Linked DNA regions of Homo sapiens: region 2 is linked to region 1. Evidence: fine-mapped expression QTL. A gene starts in region 1. The other region holds a variant in brackets. All regions are shown on one strand. Distances are between the middles of the regions.

Region 1 (2,903 bases):
GCTAGGCGTGGTGGCACAGTGGCACGTACCTTTAGTCTCAGCTACTCGGGTGGTTGAGGTGGGAGAATCACTTGAGCCCGGGAGGTCAAGCCTACAATTAGCTGTGATTGCTTCACTGCACTATAGCCTGGGCAACAGAGCTAGACCCTGTCTCAAAAAAATAATAATAAATTTTATATATATATATGAGGATGAAATTACATATGTATTATTTGAACAGAAGTGAAATCTTTTCTTTTTTTTTTTCAGACAGAATCTTGCCGCATGACCCAGGCTAGAATGCAGTGGTGTGATCTCGGCCCTCTGCAACCTCCACCTCCCAGGTTCAAGCGATTCTCATGCCTCGGTCTCCCAAGTAGCTGGGATTACAGGCATGCACCACCATGCCCAGCTAATTTTTGTATTTTTCGTAGAGACGTTCGCCATATTGGCCAGGCTGGTCTCAAACTCCTGGCCTCAAGTGATCTGCCCACCTCGGCCTCCCAAAGTGCCAGCAGCATGCTCGGAGGAGTGACTTTAAAGCTTTTCTACTTGCTTCCTAGAGTAAGGGACGCATTTTACACTGCTATCCAAAACTCATCATAGAAACATACACACACAAAACCAAAGCACACATATACAACTGAGCAAATATTTCATGACATAACACTTTCTCTTACTAAGGGTGACGCGCTGAAATTTTGTATTCTGTCCTATTTCATTTTTTAAAAATGGTAACCATGACCTGCTAAATTGATTTCATTGTCCACTAATAAATTATGACCTCAGTTTCAAAAAGATTGCTTTAGGTAACCAATCATCTTCTGAGATTTATACAGATTGCTCATAATTCTCTCCTATTTTTTAAAAACATGCTGCAGTGAACTGCTTTACACTCATTTTATGACTACTTCTGAGACCAAGATCCCGGATTATGTAATTGTTATTTACTTAAAATTCTGGTAAAATGTAGCCATTATACTGGAAAACTAAATTTTAATCTTGGATCTGTCACCACCATGATATATAAACTTTGGGCAAGTCCCTGCACCTCTCTGGACCTCAATCTCCCCATCAGCAACCTGCTGATCCTACTCCCAGGAGTGTGCTCTAAGTTGAAAGTAGATGCCCCACCCCCTGAGTCAGCGCCGGCAGGACTTCTCACCAAGCCCTTCTCCCCCTTTTCCGCTCCCTGTTCCTGGTTCCTAGGAAGCAGCCCAAGGAGAAGGGAAAAGGCAGGTCTGGGCAGGAGGGAGCAATGAAGGGCGGGGCAGAGGGAGGGCAGGAGGGAGGCCGGCCCCCTAGTAGGAAATGAGACACAGTAGAAATAACACTTTATAAGCCTCTTCCTCCTCCCATCTCCTGGCCTCCTTCCATCCTCCTCTGCCCAGACTCCGCCCCTCCCAGACGGTCCTCACTTCTCTTTTCCCTAGACTGCAGCCAGCGGAGCCCGCAGCCGGCCCGAGCCAGGAACCCAGGTCCGGAGCCTCAACTTCAGGATGTTGACAACATTGCTGCCGATACTGCTGCTGTCTGGCTGGGCCTTTTGTAGCCAAGACGCCTCAGATGGTGAGTCGGGGGCACATCTCCTGCCTCAGGATGGTTCTGGAGAATCTCAGTCTATCTGGGCACATGGCAAGACCACAGGAGAGCTTATCTCACAGCATCTGTGTCTGCAGCTGGCTAGATCTCTCTACAGGGCAGGCAGAGTCTTGGGGACTGGTTCGTGTCCCAAAGCCAAGGTGAGTTAGTACATTTAAGCCCCTGAAAAGGGGGAGATGAAAGAGGCTAGGGGAAACAGGATGACTGGAAACATGAGAAAGAAACCAGCAGAGAGGGTAGGAGAATCAGCCCCAGGGAGAGGGGAGAAAGGGGAACTGAGGGTGATGGTAGATAGGGGTACATCTAGGGGAGACGGGAAGAGGCTCAGAAGAGAAGAGAAATGGAGGGAATGGGAAGACCCTGGGAAAACTGATGGAAGAAGTGGGGGAAGAGTGGGGCAGAGAGAGGTTAGGGGAGGCTAGGGAAAATGGAAGGAGACTGGTCGCAGCTGGTGGAACTGGGGAGAAAGAGATGCTGTGCCTAATAGAACTTATGGGCGATCAGGCTACTGAAGTGGCCCTGTTTAAGCAGAAAAGGGAGTTATTACCCTCCATTATAATTGCACAGGGGCCTCCTTTCCCCTCTCTCACAATCCCCGTAACTTCAGTCTCCCCCTCAGAGAGGCAGCAAATAATAACCAGTATTCAATGAGTGCTCACTATGGTTAATACATGTATTGACCCATTTAACTTGCACAAACCCCTAAAGGTGGGTAATATTATTACTATCTCCATTTTATGAGGAGGAAACTGGGTCACAGAGTAGTTAAGGACCATGTCTAGGGTTATCCATAAATATACTTATTCACATCTGCAGATACAAAGCACAACTTCTCAAATGCAAACACAGACAGGACCCACTCACACACACAGATTTACAACCCCGGACTCATCCAAATGTGCTCTGGGCATCAACTCTGTGCCAGCCTCTTTTCTGGGTGTAGGAAGCAGAGATTACCAAGCATGGTTCCATAGCCTAGAGGAGTCCAGTGTGGCCTGTGTGTGTTTGGAGACAGCCAGGTAGTATCCCGTGAGATACACACTAATATATGGTGGTCTGGGATCACTGAAACAGACACACTGTGTCTCGTGGGGCATCAGAAAAAAATTTCCAAGAAGAGGGCAACTGAGCTGGGTCTTTTTTTCTTTGCTTTTCTTTCTTTTTTCTTTTTTTTTTTTTTTTTTTTTTTTGAGATGGAGTCTTGTGCTGTCACCCAGGCTGGAATGCAGTGGCACAATTTCAGCTAACTGTAACCTCCAACTCCCAGGTTCAGGCGATTCTCCTGCCTCAGCCTCCTGAGTAGCTGGGACTACAGGCATGTA
Region 2 (2,903 bases), 89 kb after region 1:
ACTCACTGCCAGCTGGGAAGTCATGGAAGGCTTCCTGGAAGACAGGCATGGAGCTGAACTTTGAAGGAATCAGGTTATTCCAGGGGAAGGGGCAGCACTGGCAGAAGAACAGAGGCAAAGGGAAATGCTATCACCTTTCGTGGGGCTGGGGGAGTTAATGAGATGGGAACGACCAAATATGGAGATCCTAAAAGAAAGAAATGAGGCAGAGACAAGGTCCACTTGAGTAGCCGAGTAGACTGCTGGGGACTTGCTCGGAGGCCCAGGGACTTACAGGAACACACCCTATCAGGGGTGCTGGTGCTCACACACAGCTCAACAGGACCCTGCTAATGAAGGGTAATACTTCTGTACCAGGAGCTGGTATCAGCGCATTACACACCCTGCCCCATGAATCTTCACCCACATCCCTATGACGAAGGTGCCATTGTTCCTTCTATCTTCCAGAGGAAGAATTTAAAATGTCACACTGCTAGGACATGGCAGAGCTGGGATTCAAAACCAGGCAGTCTGGCTCCCAGAGACTGCATTCCTGACCACTCTGCTTCCCTGCCGCTCACCCTCTTGAAGAGTGAAGACCCTAGCAGCCTCCTGCCCATGGAGCATGGGGTCCTCATAGCAGGCCTCTCCTCCTCATACCTCTGCCTTCACCTCACAAGCTCAGGGAGTCCTCCTGCCCCTGCCCTGCTCCCTCTGTCTCCCCCTCAGGGCTCTCTTGGGTTTCTGTGCAGCAGGATACTGGCTCCCTCGCTCTTCCCTTCCTTTTGGTTCCTGGACCCAAACCACAGGCCTCTTTCCTTTAAGGGGTCACTCCTGTTCTCTGCAGACCCAGAACAGGGGTTAAAAGAGCAAGAGACAAGGCTGCGGACAAAGGTTTTGAGTCTCCCACAGTGCTCAGAGCCGTGTTCCCTGGTTCCCAGCTGAGCTCCCTGTGGACAGCCCCTGGGGAAGAGCCTGCTCAGGAGACAGAGGCCCTGAACAGCTTGTCCCAGGTCATAGAATAGCCCAGGAGCACAGCCAGGACTGGACCCCAGGAAGCAGAGCTGCCTTCCGCTGGCTCTACCAGTTTGTTTGGGATGGAGCTCAGCGATGAGCTCACCCTTCCCTGCTGCCAGAGGGGCCAGGACCTGAG[T/G]AAGGAGCTGGGGGCGGCCTGGCCCTCTCATGCCAGCAGAAGGCCAGCCCCAGGCTTTTGGCCAACCTTGCACTGATCTTGCCCATCCCCCTTCCTTTCCGTTGCTCAAAGGTGGCTTCACAGAAGACACTGGCGGTGTCAGTAGTGTGGGAGGCATGTACTGCCCGTGGCCTGGGTCTGCCCCATGGGGTTCTTCTCTCTTCCAGAGACCTAAGCCAGGAAGGCCAAACAATCCCCACCCCCATGTGTCCCTAGGCCAGTGACGCTGGGGCCAGAGTGGGCAGTAGGACTCTAGACCACCTCCTAGGTTCCTGGCAGCCTCCCTGGACTTACAGGTGGCAGGAATGGGCCGAGCCATGCCTTAGGGCCAGAAGATAAGAGGCAGGGCTCAAGGGGCTACAAATGCCAGAGGTCAAGGCAAGCAAGGGTCTGACACTGGGCAGACAGGAGTCAGGACTGGTGATCCACAGCCTACCTGACTCCCTACCCCCTGCATTTTCTCCCCAAAGCTGCGGTTACTTCATCCCCCTAAGTTCAGGCCTCCTTGTCCTGTCCTAGGCACAATACAGAAGCCCAGGGGAGTTGGCTTTCAGAGGATCTGGTTGCTGGCGCTCCACTGGCCTCGTGCTTCCTTTCTGGTCAATGGGCTTCCTCCAGTAACCAAGCTTCTATCTTACATAGGATTACAACAGCTGCCATTCTGTGTCATACCACGCACTTCACGTGTATCTTATTCAACCTCACACAACCCGGTGAGGTAGGTCTGATGCCCCCAGTTTACAAGTGAGGACATTGAGGCTTAGGGGTAGCCCTGCTGGCCATATTCACAAACTGGCAGGGGGAATGAAGGTAATCTGTCCTACTCAGGAGCCCAAGCTCGTAACCACCGTGCCATGGAGCTGCCTCAGTTCCACCCTCAGGATCCTGTGTCCCACTTCCAGGACCTGGAGTGTGTTTTCACCTACACTTGAATCCCTGCCTCAATCTTAGCCAACAGTTCCCTGCTTCCACAACCAAGGTCCTGCAGAGAGCTGCCCACGCCCGGGCCCCACCTGCCCTGCCCGGGGTCTCCTGAAGCTGACTGCCAGTTTGCCAGGACTTGCTCTCTTTGTCCCCACTCCCTCCCTCCACCTCAGGGCATCCTTTTTTTTTTTTTTTTTTTTTTTGAGATGGAGTCTCACTCTGTTGCCCAAGCTGGAGTGCAGTGGCGCGATCTTGGCTCACTGCAACCTCCACCTCCCAGGATCAAGCGATTCTCCTGCCTCTACCTCCGGAGTAGCTGGTACTATAGGCGCAGGCCACCATATCTGGCTAATTTTTGGTATTTTTAGTAGAGATGGGGTTTCACCATGTTGGCCAAGCTGGTCTCGAACTCCTGACCTCAAGTGATCCACCCCGATCAGCCTCCCAAAGTGCTGGGATTACAGGCGTGAGCCACCACGCCCAGCCAGCTCAGGGCCTTTTCATCTCTTGTAGGGGTGGGTTGCCCCTCCACACCTGTGGGTGTTTCTCGTAAGGTGGAATGAGAGACTTAGGAAAGAAAAAGACACAGAGACAAAGTATAGAGAAAGAAATAAGGGGACCCAGGGAACCAGCGCTCACCATATGGAGGATCCCGCCAGCCTCTGAGTTCCCTTAGTATTTATTCATCATTTGTGGGTGTTTCTCGAAGAGGGGGATGTGTCAGGGTCACAAGACAATTGTGGGGAGAGGGTCAGCAGACAAACACGTGAACAAAGGTCTTTGCATCATAGAGAATGTAAAGGATTAA

Which allele goes with the higher level. Positions count from the first base shown, and alleles are read on the strand shown. Sizes are in standard deviations (SD) of each study's normalised expression.
In carriers of allele G in region 2, the expression in cerebellar hemisphere of the gene that starts at base 1,396 in region 1 tends to be higher than with T alone (moderate effect, 0.55 SD a copy in GTEx).

What was found.
Region 2: its variant is fine-mapped to the expression of PROCR in cerebellar hemisphere (GTEx, PIP above 0.99). The same link has a PIP of 0.9 or more in cerebellum.

What each region holds. Positions count from the first base shown.
Region 1 is chr20:35,170,677-35,173,579 of GRCh38, forward strand. PROCR (protein C receptor) reads left to right here and starts at 1,396. Exons shown (of 4, transcript NM_006404.5): 1 at 1,396-1,548. The coding sequence starts at 1,479. All of the region lies in intron 4 of MMP24-AS1-EDEM2 (MMP24-AS1-EDEM2 readthrough), which reads right to left.
Region 2 is chr20:35,259,521-35,262,423 of GRCh38, forward strand. All of the region lies in intron 2 of MMP24-AS1-EDEM2 (MMP24-AS1-EDEM2 readthrough), which reads right to left. The region is part of intron 4 of MMP24 (matrix metallopeptidase 24); the gene reads left to right. Among named protein-coding and RNA genes, the nearest start is that of MMP24-AS1-EDEM2, 17 kb to the right of the region's middle. RefSeq lists enhancers at 1,754-2,515, 2,516-2,903. The variant T/G (reference allele first, on the strand shown) is at 1,133.